4 linked regions of the Homo sapiens genome follow. The protein of the gene in region 1 purifies or fractionates together with the protein of each later gene. This does not show direct contact. Each region holds a gene or a part of one and is shown in the gene's direction. Other genes may lie near its edges.

The links.
Region 2: the proteins of THAP12 (region 1) and SRSF4 purify together in Homo sapiens (affinity purification with mass spectrometry; one large-scale study listed by BioGRID and IntAct). This does not show direct contact.
Region 3: the proteins of THAP12 (region 1) and RIC3 purify together in Homo sapiens (co-immunoprecipitation; one large-scale study listed by IntAct). This does not show direct contact.
Region 4: the proteins of THAP12 (region 1) and EIF2AK2 purify together in Homo sapiens (affinity purification with western blotting, with the first as the bait; one study listed by BioGRID). This does not show direct contact.

The regions. Positions count from the first base shown.
Region 1 is NC_000011.10:76,361,881-76,369,473, reverse strand, and holds part of THAP12 (52 kDa repressor of the inhibitor of the protein kinase), read left to right. Parts: intron 1-3,501; coding exon 3,502-3,622; intron 3,623-5,041; exon of another isoform or gene 5,042-5,136; intron 5,137-7,593. UniProt on the Homo sapiens protein: Upstream regulator of interferon-induced serine/threonine protein kinase R (PKR). May block the PKR-inhibitory function of DNAJC3, resulting in restoration of kinase activity and suppression of cell growth.
Region 2 is NC_000001.11:29,173,249-29,180,841, reverse strand, and holds part of SRSF4 (serine/arginine-rich splicing factor 4), read left to right. Parts: intron 1-5,123; exon of another isoform or gene 5,124-7,593. UniProt on the Homo sapiens protein: Plays a role in alternative splice site selection during pre-mRNA splicing. Represses the splicing of MAPT/Tau exon 10.
Region 3 is NC_000011.10:8,111,306-8,118,898, reverse strand, and holds part of RIC3 (protein RIC-3 isoform a precursor), read left to right. Parts: intron 1-7,593. UniProt on the Homo sapiens protein: Molecular chaperone which facilitates proper subunit assembly and surface trafficking of alpha-7 (CHRNA7) and alpha-8 (CHRNA8) nicotinic acetylcholine receptors.
Region 4 is NC_000002.12:37,144,428-37,152,020, reverse strand, and holds part of EIF2AK2 (interferon-induced, double-stranded RNA-activated protein kinase), read left to right. Parts: intron 1-2,716; exon of another isoform or gene 2,717-2,997; 5' UTR 2,998-3,164; exon of another isoform or gene 3,165-3,527; intron 3,528-3,615; exon of another isoform or gene 3,616-3,649; intron 3,650-4,198; 5' UTR 4,199-4,214; coding exon 4,215-4,333; intron 4,334-5,047; coding exon 5,048-5,168; intron 5,169-7,593.

The DNA.
Region 1 (7,593 bases):
TGTTAACTCTTTTTCTGAACAATCACTATGAATGAGTTTTGCCTGTTCTAGAATTTCATATCAAAGGAATCATGTAGTATGTACTCCTGGCTTCTTCTGCTTAACATTACGTTTGTGAGATTGTAGATAGTTTGTTCATTTCATAGCCAAGTAGTATTCCATTGAATGAATATACCACAATTTATCCATCCTGCTGTTGATGGGCAAAGTTACTTCACCTTCTCCCCAATATTTGGTATTACCTCTTTTACATTGTAGTCATTCTTGTGGGTATGTAGTAATTTGTTTTGGCTTTAATTAGCATTTCCCTGATGGCAAATGAGATCGAGCATTTTTTTTTCATCTATGTATTGCCATTTTTATAACCTTTTTATTATAAAGTGCCTGTTCAAGGCCCCTTGCCTATTTTTATGTTGGGTTATTTATTTGTAGGAGTTCTTCATATATATTTTGAATGTGAGTCCATTGTTAGATATATGTATTGCAAATATCTGACATTTTGTGGTCTGCCATTTCACTCTTAAATGGCTTCTTTTAATGAAGAAAAGTTATTAACTTTAAAGTAGCCTAATTTATATATCTTTTCCTCTAGCATTTGTGCTGTTGCCTTAAGAGATCTTTATTCCAAGGTCATGAAGATAATCTCCTGTGTTATCTTTTAGTGGCTTTATTGTTTTACCTTTCATATTTAGATCTCCAATCACTTGGAACTTATTTTTGTGTATGGTGTACAAGTAGGAGTTAAGATTTATTTTTTTCATGTAGATATTCAGCTGACTCGGCCCTATTTATTGGAAAAGAAAAATCCATATTTGCTGCTGTTCAGAGCTACCTTTAAGTATCTGCAGTGCTCTATTTTGTTTCACTGTTCTGTCCTTCTGCCAGTACTTGTCTTAATAAGCTTTACAGTAAGTCTTAATATCTGGTAGTGTAATTCTTTCAACCTCCTTTTTCCTCTCTCTCTCTCAAGATTATCTTGGTTATCCCTGGTTCTTTAATGTTGTGTATAAAAAGTTTTAGAATAATTTGTCATTTCTTTCTCTTGCTCTCTCTCACAAACTTACTGGGCTTGTGATTATATTGAATTAGTAAATGGGTTTGGGGAGAATTGACATCTTTGGAATTTAGTGTGCCAGTTCATAAACTTGTGTATTTATTTAAGTTTGCTTTAAAAAGATTATTAGAGGTCTTGCACTTCTTTCACTAGATTTATTCTTAAGTAGTTCATATAGAAAGTCAGGTGTATTTGATTAGGCTCTCTGCCTGATGCCCATTCTGTTCTTGATTGTCTGAATAAGAGTTGCTGTTGATATCAGAAAGCTGTTTCAACTTAGTTCGGAGGTAATATGTACAGTATTGCTCTGTGTGGAAGGTCTCCAGAGATTTAAGAATTTAAAAAACAAACAACTGTAGCAGTATGGCAAATTATTTTATAGTGAGATCGTTTTTATACTTAATATTTGGATTTTGAAACATGAAATGTTTATAATCATAATGTACAACTGTGTAAAAGTGTGATTAAATTGTGAACATCTTAGGCATCGTTACTGTGAGCAGTAATACTTGTTGGTCAAATGAAATGCTGTACAATTTAGGTGTAGTTTTTTAAAAATCATAGCATTTTACCTTGATTTGACATTTTTAGAGTAGAGAGAATTAAGTGTCAGGGGCATGTATGTTGGGGGGAGGTGGACAATAGTGTTAAAACATAAAAAAAAAATACTGTGATTTAATTATAAAGGAATATGTTGGGCCGGGCGCAGTGGCTCGCGCCTGTAATCCTAGCACTTTGGGAGGCCAAGGTGGGCAGATCACCTGCGATCTGGAGTTCGAGACCAAGCTAGCCAACGTGCTGAAACCCCATCTGTACTATAAATACAAAACTTAGCTGAGTGTCGTGGTGCACGCCTATAATCTCAGCTCCTTGGGTGGCTGAGGCAGGAGAATTGCTTGAACCTGGGAGGCAGAGGTTGCAGTGAGCTGAGATCACACCACTGCACTCCACCCTGGGCTAAAGAGCAAGACACCATCTCAAAAAAATAATTTGTGATACTGTTTATCCACGGCAGAACTTTTATTCTTAGAAATTTGAGGAATGGGCCGGGCGCGGTGGCTCACGCCTGTAATCCCAGCACTTTGGGAGGCCGAGGCGGGCAGATCACCTGAGGTCGGGAGTTCGAGACCAGCCTGACCAACATGGAGAAACCCAGTCTCTACTAAAAATACAAAATTAGCCAGGCGTGGTAACGCATGCCTGTAATCCTAGCTACTTGGGAGGCTGAGACAGGAGAATCGCTTGAACCCGGGAAGCAGAGGTTGCAGTGAGCCAAGATCATGGCATTGCACTCCAACCTGGGCAACAAGAGCAAAACTCTGTCTCAAAAAAAAAAAAGAAAAGAAAAGAAATTTGAGGAAAGATCTAGTTGTGACTTTAGCAAGTTACTTAATATTTCTGTGCCTTCATCTGCACAAGGGGGATATTAATAGTACCCATCTTTGGAAAGGACTTAGAACGTGTCTGGCTCATAATAAGTGCTTATTATTAGCTTTTCTGAAAATATTTAAGCACCGAGAGGGCATGGACTTTGTCTTGTTCTCTGTCTTCAACACTTTTTGTGTACTAGATTGTGTAGTCACAGTCCCTGCATTCATGGAGCTTGCAATCTAGTCAGCACGTATTACTGTAGATAATAATTTGTGTTCATAGGAAGATAAACGAATACAGCCTTTATGCTTCCCTTAGAAACTAGTTATTTAAAGAACATCTAGTTGCTGATTTTTTTTTTTTTTTCCGAGACGGAGTCTGGCTCTGTCACCCAGGCTGGAGTGCAGTGGCGCAATCTCGGCTCACTGCAAGCTCCGCCTCCCGGGTTCACGCCATTCTCCTGCCTCAGCCTCCCGAGTAGCTGGGACTACAGGCGCTCGCCGCTTCGCCCAGCTAATTTTTTGTATTTTTAGTAGAGACGGGGTTTCACCGGGTTAGCCAGGATGGTCTCGATCTCCTGACCTCCTGATCTGCCTGCCTTGGCCTCCCAAAGTGCTGGGATTACAGGCGTGACAACACGCCCGGCCTAATTGCTGATTTTCTACAGTGACAGTGTTGTTTTGTATGCTTGTTGAAGTTGAAATCCTGAAGGGAATGTTAAGCTGTGAGCCTTGTGGCTGTGCATGCAGCTTTCTGCTTGTTCTGCTGATGGTTGAATCTTCTCTGATGTTTTGGGAGTTGGAAGATGCAGGTTTCAGTTCTAGTTCTGCTGATGATTTTGTACTTCCCTCCAAACAAGTTACTTCTTAACCTTGTCTGTAATTGAAATGTTGGTACTAAATGACTTCTAAGGTTTTTTCCAACTGTTATTTTGTTATTAATCAAATTCTCCAAATTATGTTCTCAGGGAGGGGAGCAGGAATCCGTTGTTATTAATGTATGTTTGCCTTAAAACTGAAGGCTGAAATTTAAATGCTGAGCTCATTTTCATAATTGTATTTTGGTTTTATTTATAGATGCCAGAAGTGGGTGGAGAACTGTAGGAGAGCAGACTTAGAAGATAAAACACCTGATCAGCTAAATAAACATTATCGATTATGTGCCAAACATTTTGAGACCTCTATGATCTGTAGAACTGTGAGTAATAGAAGAGCTTGGTGTCTCTCTGTTTGACTTGATTTCTCTCTCTCACTGTGTCTGGTTGGAAATGTAAGTATTTACCAATGTTGGAAGGTATTCCTATATCCTGCCACTTTAAGATGAAGACAGATTTGGAGCTGAAAAGTATCTGTTTTGTTCTTAAAATCCTGATTTTGCCGGGGGCCTATAATCCCAGCACTTTGGGAGGCCGAGGCAGGAAGACCACTTGAGCTCAGGAGTTTGAGACCAGCCTGGGCAACATGGCCAGATGCCGTCGCTACAGAAAATACCAAAAAAACTAGCGAGGTGTGGTGACGTATGCCTGTAGTCCCAGCTACTTGGGAAGCTGAGATGGGAGGATACTTGAGCCCATGACGTCGGGGCTGCAGAGAGTTGTGTTCATGCCACTACACTCCACTCTGGGCGACAGAGTGAGCGCTTGTCTGGAAAAAAAACTCAAAATGATTAAAACAAAACAAAACAAAACAAAACTCTTCGGTTCCTGGTGCCCCATTTCTACTCACCCAAGGTAACTACTTTTTTTTTTTTTTTTTTTAAAGACAGTCTTGCTCTGTCACCCAGGCTGGAGTGCAGTGGCGCTATCTTAGCTCACTGCAACTTCTGCCACCTCCCCCACCTCCTGGGCTCAAGCGATTCTCTCTCCTCAGCCTCCCAAGTAGCTGAGATTACAGGCATTGTGCCACCACGCCCAGCTAATTTTTGTACTTTTAGTAGAGGTGGGATTTCTCCATGTTGGCCAGGCTAGTCTCAATCTCCTGACCTCAAGTGACCCGCCCACCTCGGCCTCCCAAAGTGCTGGGATTACATGTATGAGCCTCCACACCCGGCTGAGGTAACCACTTTTAAATATTATTTAGTCTTCAGGAAAATTTTAGATGATTATAAAAGTATATGTTTATTTAAGGTAAAGTTGGTGTTTTTATTTGGAGCTCTTTAGAGCTTTTTTATGAGTAAAATTTTCATCTCGGAATGGAGCTCTTGTTTTCATGTTTTTGTATGTACTATTAGAACCAACTTTTAATTTTTATGTGGTAGATATAATGGTAAACAAATTATCCAGGTAATGTGGAAAAACATTTTCATCAATAATATGTAATTTCATATCAGGACCTACTGTTAACTGTGTGAGCTTGGCCAAGTCACTTCCCCTCTTTGGGCCCCAGTTCCTAATAAGGAGATTAGGCCAGGTAATTCCTGAGTTCTAAGATTTTTAACCCTCTGTGATTCTCTTGCTGTGATTTATAAAAGGCACAAATAAGGCAAATTTGATTGAAATGAAGCAGACTTGTTTCAGTGTAACTAATGTAACACCTCAGATATTGGGATAGACATAAACTTGATTCAAAGGTACACTATATGTTGTTATGCAGCAATTTATTTTGATATTTTTTTCAGATACATTTTGCAGAGGCATCAGAAAACTAAAGAATGATTGGGTTATTTTATTTCTCAAAATTAATTGAAGCAGATACTTGTGAAGTCATTGGGAGGTGAGCCAATTCCGGTTCAACAGTTTAATCACAAATATTTGAGGAATATTTTTGCCTTGATTTGTTAAAAGGGTAATAATGATCAACCAAAATAAAAGGTTTCATATGTTTAAAAGGCAAACTACTTTTATGTTCTTGACATGAAGTAAAAATATCCCAAATTATTTTAAATACATTTGCCATATGCATTTTTGCATTTTTATTTTAGTAATAAATATGGTCTCTTAATTAGATAATTCTAACCAGATTGTGAGAAATTTAAAGGATAGTTCATTCTTACATTCTTTAGTTAGAGAATAGAACAGAAAGATGAGCCAGGTTTGCTTTTTTAATTTCTAAATGATTCTTCAATCTTGAATAAATGAACGCAAATGTGAGAAAATGTTCTTTCTATACGTCTAGGAGATGTTGTTATTAAAAACTGGATTTCTGGGCTGGATATGGTAGCTCACACCTGTAATCCCAGCACTTTGGGAGGCTGAGGCGGGCAGATCATTTGCGGTCAGGAGTTTGAGACCAGCCTGGCCAACGGGGAAACCCCTTCTCTACTAAAAATACCAAACAAAACAAAACAAAAAAAATTTTGCTGGGCATGGCGGTGCACACGTGTAATCCCAGCTGCTCAGGAGGCTGAAACAGGAGAATCGCTTGAACCAAGGAGGCCGAGGTTGCAGTGAGCCAAGATTGTGCCACTGCACTTCAGCCTTGGTGACAGAGTGAGACTGTGTCTCAAAAACAAACAAACAAAAACCCCTGGATTTTCTGATATCTGTATCTAAATGTTTAAGAGTTTTGGCTTTATTAGTTTGGCATTGAAGATCTCATCAGTAGCAAGGCACAGTGGCACGTGTCTGTAGTCCCAGCTACTCAGGAGTCCAAGGCTGAAGGATTGCTTGAGCCTAGGAATTCAGAGCCAGCCTGGGCAACATGGTGGTGAGACCCTGTCTTTAAACAGACAAAAAAAAAAAGATTTCATCAGTAAACATTCATGACTACTGAATTTGGCCGGAGCCAAATATTTTATTATTTTGATGCTAGAGTAAGATTATTCTTTTATGCTCAAACCTTAATTCAGCAGTTAAAGATTAAATCTTGATACTGAGATACTTGGTATCATACGTAGTATTTGAATATTGTCTTTTTTGGCATGTGTCCTTATAGATATTTATATTTTTTATTATTATTATTTTTTTTTGAAATAGGGTCTCACTCTGTTGCCTAAGCTGGGGTGCAGTGGCGCAGCCATGGCTCACTGCAGCCCCGACCTCCCAGGCTCAAGCAATCCTCCCCGCTGAGCCTCCCAAGTAGCTGGAACTACAGGCACATGCCACCATACCTCGCTAATTTTTGTATTTTTTGTAGAGATGGAGTTTTGCCGTGTTACCTAAGCTGGTCTTGAACTCCTGGGGTCAAGCCGTCTACCCGGCCAAGGCCTCCCAAAGTGTTGGAATTACAGGTGTGAGCCAACATTCCTGGCCAAAATAAATATTTGTAAAATGTCATTTTTTTCATTCATACATTCTGTTTTCTGATCTATAATATCTTTGCTTTATTTGCAAATAGAAAATCAATTTGATTTGACTTTTAAAAATTTGTTAAAATGTTTTATTCCTCCCCTCCTTATTTAATAATTAGTAAGATATCAAGAATTGACTGTGTATGTGTTTTTGCTTATTTTGGGGACATTTGCTCGGTGTGAAAGATGGGGGAGCTTTGAATATAATAACTTGTACTCCCTTCAGTGATTGTGTCCCTAACCAATTCCTCATTCAGCCTCCCTAGTAGACTCAGGATCACGAGCCCAGCACTAGAAGTTGAGTGTTACTAGGAAGTCAGAGAATCATCTTTGTGTTTTCTATTATGGCATGGAATTGAACTAGAAAATATTGACTCTGAATAGAAATTCATCCCAAATGTGTTTAACAACTCTTTGGGTACAACCCAAGATAGTGTGTTCCATTTAGATACATGTTTTCCCTTCATGTCTTCCCAACCTCCCTTCCTTGGGTGAACAAATTTAGAAGTTGTTATTTTTGTTTGGCATGTTCTTTGAGCATGCTTAGATATTTTGAAATAATCACTGCTTCAAAGAAAGCTTATTTAAATGAAGTATGTCTTATCTTTATCATTCCAAATTCAGGAAGAAATTAAAGGCACTATTCTTTGGACTGTCTGAGGGGAGTGTAATAGCAGTTATTTATTACTGTCCCTCTTAATAAGCTTCTTGTCTTTTACTCAGCCTCCTCAGGGCTGGCAGTAGGACCGTTACCATCTAAGTATGCATCCAGCTTCTAGCCAAGTTGGATGAAATTAACAGGAAGTAGGGTAGAGTATGATCATTCTTTCATAAGATGATTAGGACTTGAAAGAGATACAGAAATACCTAGATTAGCATTTGCAAAAATGTGATTATGTATATCAGTATCACTTGTGGCGTGAGAGTTGGTTTCATGTGGC
Region 2 (7,593 bases), on another chromosome or scaffold:
GTATGATCTATTACTTGTATTCTTAATCTACTTCGGCAAAAATAGTGCCAGCATGAGCTACAGGTTTTAGGGAAAACTGTTGAGGAATCAGGCCTGGAGAAAATACTCAACGGGGAAAACTGGGAACCAGATGTTAGGTAGGGCTTGGAAGGCATGGATATAAAATTAAAAGGACTGGGGTGACATTTTAGGGCACTAAACCTTGGGTGTTAGAGAACTCTTGGCTTAAAAAAGAAACTCTACTTTGCAACAGTTGTAATATAGCTACCGTTTACTCCCCAGGGTTATACTAGTAACTGACACCTGAAACATTTTGAAAGTTACCTAAGTATGTTTCACGTATGAGAAAACTGGTAGCTACCGTATTCTCAAATGATGATTTGGGTTTAAAAAGCCATTTCAAATTAATTATTAGAATCGTTTTCTTTCTGAGGACGTCTTTAGTAAAGTACTGATTTCTTTTACAGTAAAAGGCTTTAAAAACTACTCCTTTTCTACAGTAAAACGTTCAGTTCTTAAGGATATATTGAAGTGGCGGGTAGACGTTATTGTATACATACCATATATGTGAAAGTTGAAACTCCAGTTTTTTTCAGAGCCCAGCTAAATTGACAGCATAACTAACTTTTGTGGACAAAGTGTGGATTTTGAAGCCAGCCAGGCCTAAGTCAAATCCTGGTTCCACCACTTACTACGTATGGGCAAGTTACTTCTCTGAACCTGGTTGTTCATTCATGTGGAAAAGGAAGATTAGAGATAATAAATGTAAAGCATTTGGCTTAGGCAGTAAGTGGCAGCTATAATCAGAGGGATGAGGAAACATCTTTGCTTGTTGGTGTTTGATAACATAAAGCGTGTTTGGTGAGGTCTTTTCTAATGTTACTCAGGTGATAGTGTGCAGGAAATGACAAGACTGTTAATGGGAAACTGATTCATCAACCAAATGTATTGATAACCCATCAACAAAATGTCCACCACTGTGCTAAATGAATTGGGGGAGGAGGCAGAAAACAGTTCTGCTCTTGAATAAATTAAGCATTATGACATGTGCACTTTGAATTAAGAAATGTTTGCTTTCGCTTTAAACTCTAGTAAAACTTGGAATGATTTGCTTGAAAAGATGTGTTGAAATGGCTTTGAAGAATAGATTAGAGCTTGAAGTGAAGAAATTTAGGTTTCTGGGAATAGTATATGTCGTAGTTGGGGCTCAGGCATGGTGACTTGTGCCTGCAATCCCAGCTGAAGTGTGAAGATTACTTCAGGCCAGGAGTTTGAGACCAGCCTGACCCCATCTCTAAGAAAAAAATTTTTTTAATTAGCCACGCGTGGTGACACTCGCCTATAGTCCTAGCTACTTCAGAGGATGAGGCAGGAGGATCACTTCAGCCTAGGATTTCAAGGCTACAGTGAGCTATGATTGTGACACTGCACTCCAGTCTGGGTAACAGCAAGACCCCCATCTCTAATAAAATAAGTACAATGCTGACTTTTTTTGCTTTTTGATGAATAGGGAAAAAATATTTTTTTAATGTCATAATTGGTGTTGAAGACATGGTCCAGTAAGAAGCAATTATGAAAAATAATAAACAATCTAGCATGGATCAAGCCTTATGAAGAATCTAGAAATTTAACAACATAAACCAGAAACAACGACTATTAGATTTTACACTAAAAATTCGAAATCAATGAGTAGGAATTCAAAGGCTCTGGAAGGAAGAAGTGAGCAACCCAAAAGGAAGATGGAGCGATAAGAGGAAAGAGCCTTTCAGGACCCTAAATACCTGGGTGGTTTTTTTAAGGAACTGTTCATTCTTACAGTTATGCTGCCAAACCATGATATGCATGAAATGTCATTGAAAGTCAAGGTTGAAATGAAGTCATTTTAGAGTTTCAAAGACAGGTATGACAGTCACCAAACAGCACACAATATGACCTCCTGGCATCATTGAGGAATCATTACAGAGGAAAACGACTTCTGGGAAGAAGACCAATGGTAAAGATGTATTTCAAGCAAAAATTGCCTGTATGGCAAAAACGCTGGAGAGTCTGAAAGGAAGGAGTGAGTACAAAAGAAAAAGCATAACTTAGCTACGTATGTAAGCTTATAGTCCCCTAGCAGAAGGGCAGTGGATCTCCCTACTGGGAAGCATGTTTGAACATATCTAGATTGTGATTAGTAATTGAAACTCAGAGGCCGGGCGCGGTGGCCTGTAATCCCAGCACTTTGGGAGGCCGAGGCGGGCAGATGACGAGGTCAGGAGATCGAGACCATCCTGGTTAAGATGGTGAAACCCCGTCTCTACTAAAAATGAAAATAAAAATTAAAAAAAAGTAGCCGGGCATGGTGGCAGGCACCTGTAGTCCCAGCTACTCGAGAGGCTGAGGCAGGAGAATGGCGTGAACCTGGGAGGTGGAGCTTGCAGTGAGCCGAGATCGTGCCACTGCACTCCAGCCTGGGCGACAGCGAGACTCTGTCTCAAAAAAAAAAGTAATTGAAACTCAGAAACAGATTTTGGATGCTTTAGATAGGTCTTTGAAGAATTGCTGGAGTTCAGATTTGTAGAAGTGAGATGTATCAGTAGATATGTTAGGCTGAAGGGTTGTAAGTTAAGTTTAGAATTAAGGCATAAAATGCTTGTCTAGACCGGTCACGGTGGCTCACACCTGTAATCCCATCACCTTGGGAGGCCGAGGTAGGTGGATCACTTGAAGTCAGGGGTTTGAGACCAGCCTGGCCAACATGGTGAAACCCCATCTCTACTAAAAATACAAAGATTAGCTGGGTGTGGTGGTGGGCACCTGTAATCCCAGCTCCTCTAGAGGCTAAGGCAGGAGAATTGCTTGAACCTGGGAGGTGGAGGTTGCAGTGAGCAGAGATTGCATCACTGCACTCCAACCTAGGCAACAGAGCAAGACTCTGTCTCAAAAAAAAAAAAAAAAAAAAAAAATCTTGTGTAATAGGAAGATGACCAAATAAGGAAACAAATGAGTTCTTCAAAGGAGATTTAGTGTTCAGGAAAGGATTCTATGGACCCTGAGAGGGTTTGGAGAAGAGGTGTGTAAGCAAGAGTTCATTGCCTACCGTTTTATTACACCAGGCATCGCTAATGTAGATTGCCACTGTTCTAGAGAACTTTTTGAAAGATGGTTTGGGACCACAAATACAACGAAGATCTCCCAGGATCATATAGACCATTCCATTTCCCATTAAGGTCTCCTACTTTTCTACCCGCCCCATAAACTTCAAGAGTCACTGCAAGGGCCTGGCACGGTGGCTCACACCTGTAACCCCGGCACTTTGAGAGGCCAAGGCAGGCAGATCACCCAAGGTCATAAGTTCAAGACCAGCCTGACCAACATGGAGAAACCCCTGTCTCTACTAAAAATACAAAGTTAGCCGGGCGTCGTGGCACATGCCTGTAATCCTGGCTACTCGGGAGGCTGAGGCAAGAGAATCACTTGAACCTCAGAGGCATAGGTTGCGGTGAGCCGAGATCCTGCCATTGCACTCCAGCCTGGGCAACAAGAGCAAAACTTCGTCTCAAAAAAAAAAAAAAACAAAAAGAGTTACTGTAGGGAAGGGAGGGGCAGGAATCCTAGATGCACGTCAAGGAAGCAACAATATTAGCAGCACTTGTTTATACCCTTTCAGCTCTGTGGTAACTTTTGTTGGCTTTGATTGTATATAGATTTTATTTTTTATAATAAGCCATTTCATGTAAAGTGTGAAAGAATTTTGAGTACACTAGTTGCCCTTTTGTCATAAAATCTTGTGGTTTTAGTCAGATCTTTATATCTTAGCTTTTCCATATTTTAGTTAATGAGTAAAACTTACCACATATTAAGATTATTTTGCCTGTCTAGTAGCTAGAAGGATAAACCCCCAGATCATTGAAATTTATAGTTTTATTTTTTAGTTCAAGTCATGAATTAAAACTCTCAAGGGAAACTTGGATTTAAACTTCAGAACCTGCGTTTCATGGAACAGTGAAATCATGAATAGCCTGAATTTTCAGGGGATGTTGTGGTCTGTTTAGTCATGCTATCTAATTATTACCAGAAAATTTTTGTTTTCGCCCTTGTTTAATGCACCATAATTTTTTTAATGTGGAGTTCAAGACTCTTCGAGTGAGGCAGGTCGTTGTTGTGTATGTCACTGCTCACTGGAGGGCATTATTAAGCCTTAGATACTGAGAAGAATTACTGCCAACCCCAGCACCTACACAGGGATTTTTCTCTTTTGACTCCTGAATTCTTGACAGATTAGGAAGTATATAGTTAGTTTAATGTTCCAGGTTGCTGGTTTCTGGTTAGATGAGCTGTTACAGTATTTTTTTCTTTTTTTTTTTTTTAAAGTTTTTAGTTTTTAATTCTCCCAAGGCTTCTCCCAAGGCTCTGTCATTCATCGTTACCGTATTCTTAATCATGAGAGGGATTATCTTCACCCACCACCAAGTGGCAGAGAAGTGCTTTATCATTTTTATGATAATGCTATAACTAATGAGTGACAAAAGAAAAAGCAAACACTTTGCCTTTAGGAACCCTACCACCTATTTGTTGTTTTTTTGTTTTTTGTTTTTTGTTTTTTTTGAGATGGAGTCTTGCTCTGTCGCCCAGGCTGGAGTGCAGTGGTACAATCTCAGCTCACTGCAACTTCCGCCTTTTGGGTTCAAGCAATTCTCCTGCCTCAGCCTCCCAAGTAGCTGGGACTACAGGCGCGTGCCACCACGCCCGGCTAATTTTTTGTATTTTTAGTAGAGACAGGGTTTCACCGTGTTAGGCAGGATGGTCTTGATCTCCTGACCTCATGATCCACCTGCCTCGGCCTCCCAAAGTGCTGGGATTACAGGTGTGAGCCACCATGCCCGGCCACCTTTTTGTTTTTAAGCCCTTCTGCCAGCCTCAGAAATAGCATCCCATTTGCACTGGCATGTACAAAGCATTAGAGTCTATGTTAAGAAAAGGAAGACATTTGGTTCTGGATTAATTTTAGGATTATCTAAGAAGAGGTTAAAACAAGTTTTGTTTAAAAGCGTGTTTGAATAACTCTCTTTATGTATAGTTAAAATTAAAGACCCACTCTTAATTTTCAAAGTAGCACATATTTATAATTGGAAATTTTTTTTTTTTTTTTTTTTTTTTTTTTTGAGACAGCGTCTGGCTCTGTCGCCCAGGCTGGAGTGCAGTGGCGCAATCTCGGCTCACTGCAAGCTCCGCCTCCTGGGTTCACGCCATTCTCCTGCCTCAGCCTCTCAAGTAGCTGGGACTACAGGAGCCCGCCACCGCTCCCGGCTAATTTTTTGTATTTTTAGTAGAGACGGGGTTTCACTGTGTTACCCAGGATGGTCTCGATCTCCTGACCTCATGATCCACCCGCCTCGGCCTCCCAAAGTGCTGGGATTACAGGCGTGAGCCACCACGCCCGGCCGGAAATTTTTTTTGAGATGGAGTCTCTGTCTGTTGCCCAGGCTGGAATGCAGTGGCACAATCGTGGCTCACCTCCCAGGTACAAGCGATTCTGCTGCCTCAGCCTCCCAAGTAGCTGGGATTACAGGTGTGCACCACCACCCCCGGCTAATTTTTGTATTTTTTGTAGAAACGGGGTTTCACCACGTTGGCCAGCCTGGTTTTGAACTCCTGACCTCAAAGTGATCTACCTCACAAAGTGCTGGGATTACAGGCGTGAGCCACCACACCTGGCCTATTATAATTTTTTTATATGGAGAAGGACCAAAATAATCCAAAGATGTAACTCTTTGCATTTTGGGTTTTTTAGTTTTACTTTTTTTCACATACAGGTATGGGCATGTGCACGCACGCACTCTGTCTCTCTTCTTTTCTTTTTTTTTTTTTTAATTAAAAAACCCACCGGCCAGTTGTGGTGGCTCACGCCTATAATCCCAACACTTTGGGAGGCCAAGGCTGGCAGATCACAAGGTCAAGAGATTGAGACCATCCTGGCCAACATGGTGAAACCCTGTCTCTACTAAAAATACAAAAATTAGCTGGGCATGATGGCGCACGCCTGTAGTCCCAGCTACTCAGGAGGCTGAGGCAGGAGAATTGCTTGAACCCAGGAAGTGGAGGTTGCAATGAGCCTAGATCGGGCCACTGCACTCCAGCCTGGTGATGGAGCAAGACTCCATCAAAAAAAAAAAAAAAAAAACCTATCTCCTGCACAGTCTCTCCCTTTTCTTATGCCTCTCCTGACTCCTTTTTTTTTTCCAAACTTGGAATCATACTATAAGTTATTTTATAATTTGCTTGTTTCACCCTAACAGCCTGATCCTTTTCCTTTGTCATTAAGTATTCTCCTACAACCTGGTTTCTAATGGCTACATAGTACTCCAACATACATATGTTATTTAATGGACATAATCAGAACCATGTTGCAAGGCATTTAGGTTATCTTTATTTTTGTACTATTTTATGCATGTATAATACTGTTGAATATCCTTTATATGAATTTTTGTATACATTTCTTTTTGCCTTAGGGCAGATTCCTGCAAGTAGACTTTGGGAGTCAAAGCATATACACATTTTAATGCTTTTGCTAGCTATTCCATTACTCGGTAAATTAATATTTACGTTTCCACCTGCGGTGTTTAAGAGCTCCTATTTTTTTTTTTCTTTTTTCTTTTTTTTTTTGAGATGGGGTCTCAATCTGTCTCCCAGGCTGCAGTGCAGTGCAGTGGCATGATCTCAGCTCACTGCAACCTCTGCCTCCCGGGTTCAAGCAGTTCTCCTGCCTCAGCCTCCCAAGTAGCTGGGATTACAGGCGCCTGCCACCACACCCCGCTAATTTTTGTATTTTTAGTAGAGACACAGTTTCACCTTGTTGGCCAGGCTGTTCTCAAACTCCTGACCTCAGGTGATCCGCCCACCTCATCCTCCCAAAGTGCTGGGATTACAGGCGTGAGCCACCGCACCCACCAAGAGTTCCTACTTTTCTGAACAGTGCCCTTTATTATAATTTTTTAAACTAATTTTTTCTAATTAAAATGTTTAGAATTATATATGAGGAAATCATTTGGCAGCCTTTAAGGCTTGTCTATTTAGCCTATCAAGCATAACAAATTCAAGAACTTTTTGGACCAGGTGCGGTGGCTCACACCTGTAATCCCAGCACTTTTGGGAAGCTGAGGTGGGCGGATCACTTGAGGTCAGGAGTTTGAGACCAGCCTGGCCAGCATGGTGAAACCCCGTCTGTACTAAAAAGACAAAAATTAGCTGGGTATGGTGGCACTTGCTGTAATCCCAGCTACTTAGGAGGCTGAGGCAGGAGAATCGCTAGAACCCGGGAGCCGAGATTGCACCATTGCACTCCAGCCTGGGCAACAGAGTGAGACTCCATCTCAAAAAAAAAAAAAAAAAAGAAAAAAAAAAAACAACTTTTTAGGCCAGGCGTGGTGGCTCACACCTGTAATCCCAGCACTTTGGGAGGCCGAGGCGGGCGGATCACGAGGTCAGGAGATCGAGACCATCCTGGCTAACATGGTGAAACCCTATCTCTACTAAAAAAAAAATACAAAAAAAATTAGCCGGGCCTGTTGGCCTGCGCCTGTAGTCCCAGCTACTTGGGAGGTTGAAGTA
Region 3 (7,593 bases), about 68 Mb from region 1:
AATCTGCTATTTTTTCTTTTTTTTTTTTGAGATGGAGTCTCACTCCGTCTCCCAGGCTAGAGTGCAATGGTGTGATCTCAGCTCACTGCAACCTTCGCTGCCTGGGTTCAAGTGATTCTCATGCTTCAGCCTCCTAAGTAGCTGGGACTACAGGTGCCCGCCATCACTCCTGGCTAATTTTTTTTGTATTTTTAGTAGAGACAGGGTTTTGCCATGTTGGTCAGGCTGGTCTCGAACTCTTGACCTCAGGTGATCCAACTGCCTAAGCCTCCCAAACTGTTAGGATTACAGGCGTGAGCCACTGCGCCCAGCCCAATCTGCTGTTTTCTTGCCTGAGCATTAATTTTTTTTTTTTTTTTTTTTTTTTTTTTACAATTATGGCTTTCTATTCAATAGCTCCTTTTTATTTCTTGTTTGCTACCTTTTTAAATTGAAGCCTGGCTAGGTTTTATCAATGCAGTATCTTCTTGAATATTATTAGGAATATCAATCATAAATTGGTTGATGTTAACGCCTTTATCTCCTGCACTAACTATTTTATTAGAGACTATTGGCATTGTTTGTTTTGGTTAGTTTTGTTCCCTCATTTTGAACTGCTGGTTTCCTCATAGGAGCAGTGAATTTTTGTTGCTTGCTTATATTTTTAATGATGGTCTTTTTTTTTTTTTTTTTTTGAGATGGAACCTTGCTCTGTCATGCCCAGGCTTGAGTGCAGTGGCAGGGTCTTGGCTCACTACAAGCTCCACTTCCCAGGTTCACGTCATTCTCCTGCCTCAGCCTCCCAAGTAGCTGGGACTACAGGCGCCTGCCACCACGCCTGGCTAATTTTTTTTAATTTTTAGTAGAGATGGGGTTTCACCGTGTTAGCCAGGATGGTCTTGATCTCCTGACCTCGTGATCTGCCCGCCTCGGCCTCCCAAAGTGCTGGGATTACAGGCGTGAGCGACCGTGCCCAGCCTTAATGATGTTTTTGAGTAACCAGTAATGATGGCTTACATAGGCTACCTCAGCAGTTTTATGAGTTATTATTTGATTTTCCTCAGTGGGCCTCTTCCTCTTTTAAAAAGAAAATTATTTATTTTAATTAATACATAAAATTATATATATTGATGTTTTGATATATGTATACACTGTGAAATGGCTAAATCAAGCTATTTAACATACACATTACCTCACATACTTAAGGATTTTTGTGGTGAGAACACTTAAAATGTACTCTGTTAGCAATTTTCAAATATACAACATACTGTTATTAACTATAGTCTGTATAATGTATAATAGATCTCTTGAACTTATTTATTCCTCCTATCCAGCTGAAATTTTATGTCCTTTGACTAGCATTTCCCTGATCCCCCTAGCTTCTGATAACCACCATTTTATTTTCTTAATGAGCTTGACCTTTTTACACTCCATATGTAAGTGAAATCACGCTGTATCTGTCTTTCTGTGCCTGGCTTATTTCAGTTAACATAATGTCCTCCAAGTTCATCTAGGTTGTCATAAATAACAGGATTTCCTTTTTGAAAGCTCAGTAGGCCAGGTATGGTGGCTCACGCCTGTAATCCCAACACTTTGGGAGGCCGAGGCAGGTGGATTGCTTGAGCCTAGGAGTTCAAGACCAGCCTGGGCAACACGGTGAAACCCTGTCTCCACAAAATACAAAAATTTGCTAGGCATGGTGGCATGTGTCTAGTCCCAGCAACTTGGGAGGCTGAGGTGGGAGGCTGAGATGAGTCCAAGAGGTGGAGACTGCAGTGAGCTGAGATTGTGCCACTGCACTCCAGCCTGGGTGACAGTGTGAGACCTCGTCTCCAAAAACAAAAAAATGCTAAGTACTATTCTGTTGTGTATATGTGCCACATTTTCTTTATTCATCCATTCATGGATGTTCAGATTGATGCTATAGTGTGGCTATTGTGAATAATGCTGCAGTGAACATGGGAGTGCAGATATCTTTTTGACATACTGATTTCTTATCTTTTGGATATATATCCAGTAGTGGGATTACTGGATCATATGATAGTTCTATTTTTAATTTGTTGAGGAGCCAGTATACTGTTTTCCATAGTGACTGTACTAGTTTACATTCCCAGCAATAGTATATAAGGGTTCCCTTTTCTCTACATCCTTGCTGACACTTATTATTGCCTTTTGTCTTTTTGATAATAGCCATTCTAACAGATGTGGTGATATTGTGGTTTAAATTTTCATTTCTTGAATGTTTAATGATGTTGAGCACTTTCTCATATGCCTGTTGACTATTTTTCTGTCTTCTCTTGAGAAGTGTCTATTTATATCCTTTGCCCATTTTTAAATTGGGTTTTCTTTTGCTGTGGAGTTGAGTTCCTTATATATTTTGCATATTAACCCATTATCAAATATATGGTTTGCAAATATTTTCTCCCATTACATAGATTGTCTCTTTACTGTTGTTTCCTTTGCTGTACAGAAACTTTCAGTAATCCCATTTGTCTATTTTCACTTTTGTTGCATGGGCTTTTGGTGTCATATCCAAAAATATCATTGTCCAGACCAATGTCATGGAGCTTTTTCCCTAGGTTTTCTTCTAGTAGTTTTACAGCTTCAGGTCTTATGTTTAAGTCTTCAGTGCATTTTGAGTTGATTTTTGTAAATGTGAGGTGTGAGATGAGGGTCTAATTTCACTGTTTTGCATGTGGATATCTAGTTTCCCCACACCATTTATTGAAGAGATTGTCCTTTGACCTTTTTGTGTTTGTCCTTTGACCTGTGTGTGTGTGTGTTTTATTTTTTGGCATCTTTGTTTAAAAAAATTGACCATAAATATGTGGATTTATTTCTGGGCTTTTATTCTGTTCCATCAGTCTGTGTGTCTGTTTTTATGCCAGTAACATACTGTTTTGATTACTATAGCTTTGTAGTAGATTTGGGAATCAGGTACTGTGATGCCTCTGGCTTTGTTCTTTTTGTTCACAATTGCTTTGGCCATTTGGGGTCTTTTGTGGTTCCATATGAATTTTAGAATTGTTTCTTCTATTTCTGTGAAAATTGTCATTGAAATTTTGATAGGGATTGTATTAAATCTGTAGATTGCTTTGTATAGTATGGACATTATAGCAGTATCAATTCTTCCAATCCATAAACGGGACATCTTTTCATTTTATTTGTGTCTTCTTCAATTTCTTTCATCAATGTTTTATAGTTTTCATTTCAGCCTCCCAAGTAGCTGGGATTACAGGCATGCACCACCATGCCGAGCTAATTTTGTATTTTTAGTAGAGGTGGAGTTTCACCATGTTGGTCAGGCTGGTCTCGAACTCCTGACCTCAGGTGATCCACCTGTCACAGCCTCCCAAAGTGCTGGGATTACAGGCGTTAGCCACCGCACCTAGCCTATACTTTCATATATATATATATGTATATTTGTGTTACTGAATAGTGTCCCTTGCTCTCTACTTGAAGAACACCCTTGAGCATTTTTTATAAGATAGATCTTGTGGGGATAAGCTCCTTCAGCTTTTGTCTGGCAGAGTCTTTGTTTTTTCCTCATTTCTGAAGGAGAGCTTTGCCAACTACAATATTCTTGGTTGACCTTTTTTTTTTTTGTTTTTGTTTTTGTTTTCCGTAAGCATTTTGAATATATTATCCCACTCTTTTCTGGCCTTTAAGGTTTCTGCTGATAAATCTGTTAGAACTCCCTTATAATGTGATGTACTTTTTTTCTTTTGCTGCTTCCAGCATCCTCTCTGTCTTTGATTTTTGATAGTTTGATTATAATACTTCTTGATATAGTCTTACTTGAGTTCAGTCTGATTGGAGACTTTTGACCTTCTTGTACCCAGATATTTATAACTTTCCCCAGATTTGTATAGTTTTCTGCTATTATTTCTTTAAGCTTTCTATCCCTTTGTGTCCGTCTCCTCCTTCTTGAACTCCAGTTCCCATAAATCCCATAAGCTTGCTTTCTTTTCATTCTTTTTTTCTCATCCAACTGTATATTGTCAAATAATCTGTCTTTAGATTCAAAGGTTCATTCTTTTGCTCAATCAGTTCTGCTGTTGATACTCTCTATTGCATTTTTCATTTCAATTCTCGTATTTTTCAGCTGTAGAATTTCTGTTTGATTTTTTTAATATAATTTCAATCTCTCGTAAATTTTTTGTTTTAGTTATTTATTGTTTTCCTGGTTTCCTTTAATTGTTTCTCTGTATTTTCTTGAAGTTCGCTGAGTTTCCTTAAAACAGTTATCTTGAATTCTTTGTCAGGCAGTTCATGTGTCTTCTTTTTCTTTCTTTCTTTCTTTTTTTTTTTTTGAGATGGAGTTTTGTTCTTGTTGCCCAGGCTGGAGTGCAATGGCTTGATCTTGGCTCACTGGAACCTCTGCCTCCTGGGTTCAAGCGATTCTTCTGCCTCAGCCTCCTGAGTAGCTGGAATTACAGGCGCCTGCCACCACGCCCGGCTAATTTTTTGTATTTTTAGTAGAGATAGGATTTTACCATGTTGGCCAGGTTGGTTTTGAACTCCTAACCTCAGGTGATCCATTTGTCTTGGCCTCCTAAAGTGTGTGAGATTACAAGCGTGAGCCATCACGCCCGGCCGTATCTTCATTTCTTTAGAGTCTGTTCCTGGTGCTTTATTTTGTTCATTGGTGGCAACATGTTTCCTTGATTGTTCTTGATCCTCATGGCTATGCATTGGTATCTGTGCATTTGAAGAAGCAGGGACTTTTGCTGGTGAATGGTTTTTGCATTCTGGCTTTGTCCGGAAAAGCCATTCACCAGTCAGCCTGCCCAGAGATTCTGGGTAGGCCATTTGGTGTGATCTGCAGGTAGACTTGCTGGTAGAGTCCTTAGGCAGGGTGGCCTGGTGTTGAGTCCGTGGGGTTGGGGTTGAAGCCTGGATCCACTGGGGTGTACCTGTTGATTGGATCCTCAGGCATGGACCTGGTGCTTGTATCTTGTGCAGAGAGGCTATCCCAAAGCCTAGGTCCACAAGGGCTGACCTGGGGCTGGACTGGGCCTTGAGCCTGGGTCTTCAGAGATTGGCCAGGTGCTAGGATGAACCTGGTGCCCGGGTCCACTGAAATGGGCCTGGAGGCTGAGTCTGATGGATGTGTCTGAAGGCTAGGTTCATTAGGGCTGGCTTGGGTCCTGGGGCCACAGGCCTCAGCCTAGAACCTAGGTCCATAGGGGCAGTCCTGGGGTTCTGAGGGCCGGCCCAATGCTGGGGTCTACTGGGTTGGGCTAGACCCAGGGTCTGCTGGATTGTGGGAATGCAGGGGCCAACCTGAAGGTGGGGGTGGTCATAGAGACTAGCCTGGCACTGGGCAGGCCTGGAGCCTGTGTCTGCAGGCTCCAATTTGGGTGCCATTGGGGTGCCAATTTGGCACTGGGCTATGTGGGCAGACCTGGCTCTGGTTTTGTCTGGAACCTAGGGTGGGACTGGATTCTGGGGCCATAGTTGCTGGCCTGATGCTGGGTGGGCCCGGAGTCTGTATCTGCAGGGGCCAGCATGGAGGCTGGGTCTGTGGGTGCAGGCATTATGACTAGGGATGCAGAGCTGGACTGAGGCCTGGTGTTGGGGTAGGCTGAGAGCCTGAGTCTGGGTGACCTTCCCTCTTAAAGCAGATAGTCATGAAAATTCAAAGATAAGCTTTGTTCTAAGTGTGGGAAGACAGGGACATGCCAGCAAATGGACTTCTTTTAAGCATTCAGTGGCTGGGAGCTGACTAGCAAGCAGCTTCTCCAGATCCTATCCTTGACCATGGTGGCTGAGGGTCTTGGGTTAGCTAAGCTCCACTTTACCTAGCATTCCATCCGCAGTAAGTTAAGCCTTGGAATAAAGACTGCATTGGCAAAATTCTTAACATACTACTGTGAGTGCTGGTGAGGGTGTCATAAGATGGACAGTCTTTATATCACTGGTAGGATTGAAAATTTATACCACTCTTCTGGAAAGTAATTTGGCACAGTATAAAAAAGGCTTTTATAATGTCCATTCCCTTTGGTCTAGTTTTCATATTTATAGAAGTCTATCTTAAAGAACTAGGGAAGTGGACATAGATTTATATTAAGAAATCTTAACTTGTATACTACTTATAATAGGGGAAAATTGGAAAGAATCTAAATGCCCTAGAAAAGAGGACTAGTAAATCATGTCAGTTATGTAGCTATATGATGAGATATTTTGCAACCAACTTTCAAATGCCTAATGACATGGAGAGATGCTCATGATATAATGTTGAATTGAAAAACATCAGGATATAACCTTTTATACACAAATATGATCCTTCTTTTTAAAAAAGGGGAATAAGAAAATACATGTTGGCCGGGCGCGGTGGCTCATGCCTGTAATCCCAACAATTTGGAAGACCGAGGTGGGTGGATCACCTGAGGTCAGGAGTTTGAGACCAGCCTGGCCAACATAGTGAAACCCCGTCTCTGCTAAAAATACAAAAAATTAGCTAGGTGTGGTGGCATGCACCTGTAATCCCAGCTACTCAGGAGGCTGAGGCAGGAGAATCACTTGAATCGGGGAGGCAGAGGTTGCAGTGAACCGAGATTGCACCACTGCACTCCAGCCTGGGCAGGCGACAGAGCGAGACTCCGTCTCAAAAAAAAAAAAAGAAAAGAAAAGAAAAGAAAAGAAAATATATGTGTATATACGGTTAAAAAAAGACCAGAAAAAAGCAAATTATTATGAGTGAAGATATTATGGGTGATTTGTGTTTTCTTTTTTAAACTAGCCTGTATTTTTTTCAAATTTTCTACAAATGAGTCTGTATGATTTTTATAGTCAGAAAAAGCAGTAAATGTAGAAATGTCTCCACACACACCCTACATTGCACCAAAAAAGACTTATTTGTCACAGTTGTAGGCAAAAAATGGTTTACGTTAGGGTTGAATTTGCCAATTATCATAATGGGCAAATGGGTTCTGAATCCTCCAGCTTTCTGCACTGTATCGTGATTACGGCCGCTGGTGCCAGTACTGGTGTGTGAGCTCCAGCACGGCCCATCTGCTGCTCAGGCTTGCTTGGCGGACACAGATTTATTTCATTTAGTTTGGTAATTTGGCAACAGTTTCTCTTTTCTCATTATCCTAGCTGGGATTCAGTACCAGTGTTACTCATTTTGTTTGCCAGTTTGTTGTTTTCTTTTGTTCCATTTTGTGAAGATGAAGAAGCCAACAACAGGAATTCTGTCTTCCGAAAATGCAGTGCTTGTCCTTTCGGGATCTTGGGCATGCCTTGCTAAAGTGCTCTCTATTTTTGACACTTGCAAGCCATTTCAATTGTTTGGATAAATAGAAAGCTTCATGGTGTATTTTTCAAAGAGCTTAGCATTCCTTTCCTCTCCCCACTCCACCAAGGAAGATTTGGAAATTGTTCCAAATAGAAATTATAAACATTAGCCTGGAGCTGTGCTGTCTCTGTCTGGTTTTGATGCTTTTTTTGTTTTAACTAAAGGCTCATGTTGTTTGTTTAATCTTCATCAGTACTGCAAAAACACATGGTATAAGACTTAACTCTGCCCCAAGCACCCTACACATAAGAAGGGATTTTCATCTGAATTAGTTTGTATTTCAAAGAGCACTGGGATAGCCAGATTGCTAA
Region 4 (7,593 bases), on another chromosome or scaffold:
GATCTCAGCTCACTGCAAGCTCCGCCTGCCGGGTTCACGCCATTCTCCTGCCTCAGCCTCGCGAGTAGCTGGGACTACAGGCGCGCGCCACCGCGCCCGGCTAATTTTTTGTATTTTTAGTGGAGACGAGGTTTCACCGTGGTCTCGATCTCCTGACCTCGTGATCCGCCCGCCTCGGCCTCCCAGAGTGTTGGGAGTACAGGCATGAGCCACGGCGCCTGGCCTATCCATGTTGTAGCATGTATCAGTACTTCATTTTTTTTGTGACTGAATAATATTCCGCTGTGTAGATATATTTCACATTTTGTTCACCATTTATCCGTTGATGGACACTTGGTTTGTTTCCACCTTTTGGCTATTGTTAACAGTGCTGCTATGTACATTCCTGTCTAAGTCTTTGTTTGGAAACCTGTTTTCCAATTCTTTGAAATATCTAGGAATGGAATTGCTGAGTTTTATGATAATTCAAAGTTTACCTTCTAGAGGAACCCCAGCAACCGTATTGTTTTACATTCTTATCAGCAGTGTTTGAGGGGTCCAGTTTCTCCATGTCCTCACCAACACTTATTTTTTATTATTTCCTGATTATTATTATTATTGCCATACTAGTGGGTGTGAAATTGTATTTAGTTGTGGTTTTGAATTCCATTTCTTTAATGACTCATGATGTTGAGTATCTTTTCATGTGCTTATTGGCGATTTACATATTTTCTTTGGAGAGATGTCTGTTCAAGCCCCTTTGCCTATTTTTTTAATTGGGTGGTTTGTCTTTTTGTTGTTGAGCTGTAAGAATTCTTTATATATCTGGTTACTAGACCCTCATCAGATATATGATTTGTAAATATTCTATTCTGTAGATTGTCATTTTATTTTCTTCATAGTGTCCTTTGATACACAAACGTTTTAAATTTTGATGAAGCCCAATTTATCTCTGTTTTCTTTTGTTGCTTGTGCTCTTGCTGTCATAGCTAAAATTTTATCACCAAATCCAAAGTCATGAAGATCTCCCCCATATTTTCTTCTAAGAGTTTTATAGTTTTCGCTTGTACATTTATATTTTATATCCTCTAAATTTTGTTTATAATTTAAATCATTGCTATAGACTTGGTCCAGTGAGACCTATAAACAGAGGTCTTAATTTACTCAGTGGTTAAATTGTCCTAAAATTGATTTCTGCAAAATTCAGAGGGGAGATTTTTGGGATTTCATAGAGAAATCTATATCCATACAGTTAAATCCTTCATGATTTCATACACTTCACTTTTTTAAAGTATTAAAACTTTTTTATTTGAAGAATACGTGGGGAGAAGAGAAATATATTTCAGCACTTAGATATGTAGATTATTTCCAAAATAGTTTACCACTCAACTAGTCACTTCTGTGTAAATCAGTTTTCCCTGAAGCAAGCATTGTGTTGTTCCCGGCTACAAGCGGTCCTCATTTTGCATGGTACTGTGGGACCATAAAAATGGCCATGCAAAGCAATCTTAATAATCAATGGGGAAAATGATGATTGTTCCATGACCTTTAAAATTCTGCTAAAATATTAAAACTCTTAAGGTCAGTTATAAATGTAGAAAAAAATGCAAAAAAAATTTAAAAATATTTAGTACACTGTAATTTAAAACATTAAAAATAGAATTAAAGTGTTTTATTTCATTGTGAAAACTAAGTAGTTTGAATAGGGATTGCCTTTTTTTTCTGCCAAGTGACTTATGATACTGAGTAAGCATCTTTTCTATTCATGGCAAACTGTCATACTCCTTTTAAGTTTGGGTGAGCTTCCAGCCTTTTATTGCTTGTGCTTTCAATGTTGTGAAGTATTTCTGTATTCACATTAAATGCTCTTTAGTGTGAAGTTTGTTTTTTTTTTTTTTTTACCGTCACTTCCTCTGGGACATATTTATCTTTATTGCAATCACTTTTCTTATTTGTGTTGATAAGTTTGCCTTCACTAAGCTCCTATGAATGCACAGCAGGAAGAACATTCCCATGATCAGTGACTTCTTCTACAAATCCATTTATGTTTGATTCAAATTTCACTTCCAGTGTTATCATTTTTCGTTGCTTTGTTGGACTTTCATCTTTGTTGGCCAGTTCTTTCGATTGTTCACTTCTATAAAATGTCAGGTGGAGGACAAAGAGACAGTGTAACTACGTGCTCTGCTGTGAGTGAACTGATTAACAGATGCACAGGGACCAACCACTGGAAGAATTTGAAACAAGTAACACGACTGGTCACTGATCATGAAGCATATCTGTTATTTACATCGTGATTTGTAGACTGAAGAACTAGCAGAGAAGTTTGTACTTCCTGTAATTACTCAGAGTTATACTGTGCTACCTAAAATTTTAACCTAGGTTTAAACAACACCAGTTTCCTTACCAGTTTCCTTTCCTTCCTGGTAAGGAAACTGGTATTTAAACTAAATCTAGGTCACTGAAATTTGTGCCATGGGAACCGTGCACATTGAGGACCTGCCTACACCCTACATGTTTATATTGGTCCAGGCAGGCTTAATGCTGACTACTGAGAAATAGGCTATCTGAATTTATATCAAATAGTGAATCTTAAAGCACCCAAGATGAAAAATTCGTGCACATTGAGGTGCTTTTAAAATCTTTGTCATTTGACAATCAAGCTTAAAATGTATCTTAGAGTAACCGAATTTTAGAAATAAAGACCTTTAAAGGCCCCATAGTTTGATACCACAGATTATCCAGCATGTTTATAATGAATTATTTCTCCTCCTTCAATTTCAGTTTGCTCATACTTTGTGACTTGCGGTCACAGTGGCATTCAGCTCCACACTTGGTAGAACCACAGGCACGACAAGCATAGAAACATCCTAAACAATCTTCATCGAGGCATCGAGGTCCATCCCAATAAAAATCAGGAGACCCTGGCTATCATAGACCTTAGTCTTCGCTGGTATCACTCGTCTGTCTGAACCAGCGGTTGCATTTTTTTAAGCCTTCTTTTTTCTCTTTTACCAGTTTCTGGAGCAAATTCAGTTTGCCTTCCTGGATTTGTAAATTGTAATGACCTCAAAACTTTAGCAGTTCTTCCATCTGACTCAGGTTTGCTTCTCTGGCGGTCTTCAGAATCAACATCCACACTTCCGTGATTATCTGCGTGCATTTTGGACAAAGCTTCCAACCAGGTACAAGCGGTCTTCCGAATTTTGCACTCAGAAAAGTGGCATCATCTAAGTCAATTACATGCAAATTCTGGGGGGCTAGTTTTTTGTGTATGTTAAATGGGTCACAACACGACTTCTGTAAATCCTCAAATCTGTCAATATAAATTTTTATGTGATGAAAGCAAATTGTATTGTTCCTAGAAAGTGTCCTTCCAGTTCTAAGTTGAAGTAAAAGCATGTCATTTGATGACAATTCTTGCAACATCTTAAAACCTGTGTGACAAGTATAGTAGGTTTTATGGCACTCATTTGTAGTACGAAGCTGGACTGCAACTATCGATCCATCATTGTTGATTCTAGCATATTTTCCTTGTTTTATTTTGTCTAGAGATCTAGGTCACGGGCTGATCACCCTTAGCTTGAGCTCTCCTCCGCCTGGCTTCCGGCAGGATCCACGTCCACACAGGCACACTTGCCTGCCCGTTCATTTCCCAGCCTGTCCCCATGCTACCACTCCACTTCACTTATTATATATACTCTAAATCTTTTTCTTCTCAACATAAAACATTCTACAATCCTGCAGCCTTTTTACTTTTTTAAGCAGGTAGGCAAACATGTAGTTGATACTCAGTGGAAGCACAGAGCAGAGTTAAAGAGAAGGACCCCCTTTCACTGACCAGTTGAGTTTTTTTTCTTTCCTTTATTTTTTAAAACAATTTCAAAATTGAGATGGGGTTTCGCCATGTTGCCCAGGCTGGTCTCGAACTCCTGAGCTCAGGTGATCCGCCCACCTTGGCTGGGATTATAGGCGTGAGCCACCACACCTGGCCAAGTTGAGTTTTTAAAGTAGAAAATTTTGGAGAAATTAACTTTATTGTGCAGTGAATGAGAAAGAAAGAACGGTTTTGAAAGAAAGTCTCTGCATTTATGTGAGACTGAGATGAGTCCTATAAAGGGGAGTCTCCCCAACCCCTCTGTCTCCTAAACTGCATTGGGAAACTCAGATTAAATATGTTCTGTGAGCATCACTCATTCAAATGTCTCTTCCATTGTAGGATACGGGAAGAAGAAATGGCTGGTGATCTTTCAGCAGGTTTCTTCATGGAGGAACTTAATACATACCGTCAGAAGCAGGGAGTAGTACTTAAATATCAAGAACTGCCTAATTCAGGACCTCCACATGATAGGAGGTAGGTTGCTATAAAAAATGATATGGCAGCCATAAAAAATGATGAGTTCATGTCCTTTGTAGGGACATGGATGAAGCTGGAAACCATTATTCTCAGCAAACTATCGCAAGGACAAAAAAACCAAACACCGCATGTTCTCACTCATAGGTGAGAACTGAGCAATGAGAACACATGGACACAGGAAGGGGAACATCACACACCAGGGACTGTTGTGGGGTGGGGGGAGGGGGGAGGGATAGCATTAGGAGATATACCTAATGCTAAATGACGAGTTAATGGGTGCAGCACACCAACATGGCACATGTATACATATGTAACCTGCACGTTGTGCACATGTACCCTAAAACTTAAAGTATAATAATAATAAAATTAAAAAAAAAAGAAAAAAGATATGACCTTATAAATGTAAGCTGGGGGAATGGCAACTCTGGCACAACTTTGAGGTCAACACTTTAGTTTTGTGAGAGTGCTCTTGGCATAAAGTGGGAACCATGGTGGAGCCACAGTTGACTCCAGAGAGAAAAGAGGGTAGAAACCTTTCCATGCTTCAACAAGACATGCTGCTTTACTGTTTGAGGTGACTGCTTAAATGCTATATTGAATGTAGGTTCAAACCCTCAAAGGTAGTCATAGGAGGTAGTGATGACTAGAGTACTTGTTTTTAGATAGTGCATGAGTTGTATAATATTTTATGAATATTCTCTTTGTAATCAGGTTTACATTTCAAGTTATAATAGATGGAAGAGAATTTCCAGAAGGTGAAGGTAGATCAAAGAAGGAAGCAAAAAATGCCGCAGCCAAATTAGCTGTTGAGATACTTAATAAGGAAAAGAAGGTGAGTGATTGCCTTTTTTCCTAATAAATGGGAACTTGCAAATACATTTTCTGTTTCTCTCTGTGAGAAAATACTTTCATACAGAGTAAAGCCATTCACACGTTCCCTTACATTCAAGAGTTTGGTTAAGTCATTCACCCTATCTTCATTTCTATGAAACCCTGAGTGAGAGCCACACCTAGGACACCATGGGCAAAGCTGGATAATAGTTATTTAGAGTGTCAGCAGCAGTTAAATACTCTAAAGTTGAACAAATATGGAAAGGTGAGAAGTGTTCAGTGGGAAATGAGCTGACAGGTTCTGGGAGGAGTCCCCTCCACCTAAATGAGGAAGTACAGTAAAAAAGGAAAAAGAGATGAAAGTGATTGTAGGGAGAATAATGTACAGTGGTCACTCACTCTCTGTGGGGAATTGGTACCAGGACTCCCTGTGGATGCCAAAATTCACTGATGCTCAAGTCCTTTATATAAAATGGCATAGTATTTACATATAACCTATTTACATCTTCCCATATACAGTTATGCATTGCTTAACAAGGAGAATACATTGTGAGAAATGCACCTTTGGGCAATTTCCTCATTGGGCAAACATCATAGAGGTACTTACACAATCCTGAATGGTACAACCAGTACACACCTAGGCTGTGTAGTATAGCTTATTGCTCCTAGACTACGAACCTATACAGCATATTATTGTACTGAATACTGTAGCCAATTGTAACACAATGTTTAGTATTCATGTATCTAAACATATCTAAACACAGAAAAAGTACGGTAAAAATACAGTATAAAAGACAAAAGGCTGGGCTTGGTGGCTCACACCTGTAATCCTAGCACTTTGGGAAGCTGAGGCGGGTGGATCACCTGAGGTCAGGAGTTGAAAACCAGCCTGGCCAACATGGTGAAACCCTGTCTCTACTAAAAATACAAAAAATTAGCTGGGCGTGGTGGTGGACGCCTGTAATCCCAGCTACTTGGGAGGCTGAGGTAGGAGAATTGCTTGAACCCGGGAGAAGGAGGTTGCAGTGAGCTGAGGTTGTGCCACTGCACTCCAGCCTGGGGATCCTATCTCAAAAAAAAAAAAAAAAAAAAAAAAAAAAAAAAAAAAAAAGACAAGCAAAAGTACACCCATATAAGGCACATACCATGCATAAATAGAGCTTGCAGGACTGGAAGTTGCCCTGAGTTTGTCAGCAAGTGGGTGGTGAATGAATGTGAAGGCCTAGGGCATTATTGTTTACCACTGTAGACTTTATAAACACTGTATACATAAGCAACATTCATTTTATTTAAATTTTTTTTCTTCAATAATAAATTAACCTTAGCTTACTATAACTCTTTTACTTTATAAACTTCTTATTTTTAACATTTTCACTCTTTCCAAATAACACTTAGCCTAAAACACAAACGCGGCCAGGCGCGGTGGCTCATGCCTGTAATCCTGGCACTTTGGGAGGCCAAGGCAGGCAGATCACCTGAGGTCAGGAGTTTAAGATCAGCCTGGCCAACACGGTGAAACCCTGTCTCTACTGAAAATACAAAAATTAGCCGGGCATGGTGGTGGGCACCTATAATTCCGGCTACTTGGGAGGCTGAGGCAGGAGAATTGCTTGAACTCAGGAAGCGGAGGTTGCAGTGAGCCGAGATCGTGCCACTACATTCCAGCCTGGGCGACAAGGCAAGACTCTGTCTCAAAAAAAAAAAAAAAAAAACCCACAAAACCACAAACAAACACATAGTATGGCTGTACAAAAATATTTTGTTTCTTTACATGTTTATTCTATAAGCTTTTTTCTATTTTTAAAATTTTAAACTTTTTTTTTTAACTTTTAAACTTTGTTGTAAAAAATTAAATCATGGTTGGGCATAGCGGTTCATGCCTGGGATGTCGAGGAGCCATGATTGTGCCACTGTACTCCAGCCTGGGTGACAGAGTGAGACCCTGTCTCAAAACAAAACAAAACAAAACAAAGGCTGGGTGTGGTGGTTCATGCCTGTAGTCCCAGCACTTTGGTAGGTCAAGGTAGGTGGATCACTTGAATTTGGGAGTTTGAGATTAGCCTAGGCAACATGGTGAAACCCTGTCTGTACTAAAAACACAAAACATTAGCCGGGCTTGGTGGCATGTGCCTGTAGTTCCAGCTACTCAGGAGGCTAGGCGGGAGGATCACGTGCCTGAGAGGTCAGGGCTGCAGTGAGCTGTGATCTTCTGACTGCACTCCAGCCTGGGCAACAGAGCAAGACCCTGTCTCAAAAAAAAAAAAGAAAGAAAAAAAATTACAACACAAACACACACATCAGCCTAGGCCTACACAGCGTCAGGATCATCTACATCACCATCTTCCACCTCCAGATTTTGTCCCTCTGGAAAGTGTTCAGGAGCAATAACATACATGGAGGTGTCATCTCCTATTGTAGCAATTCCT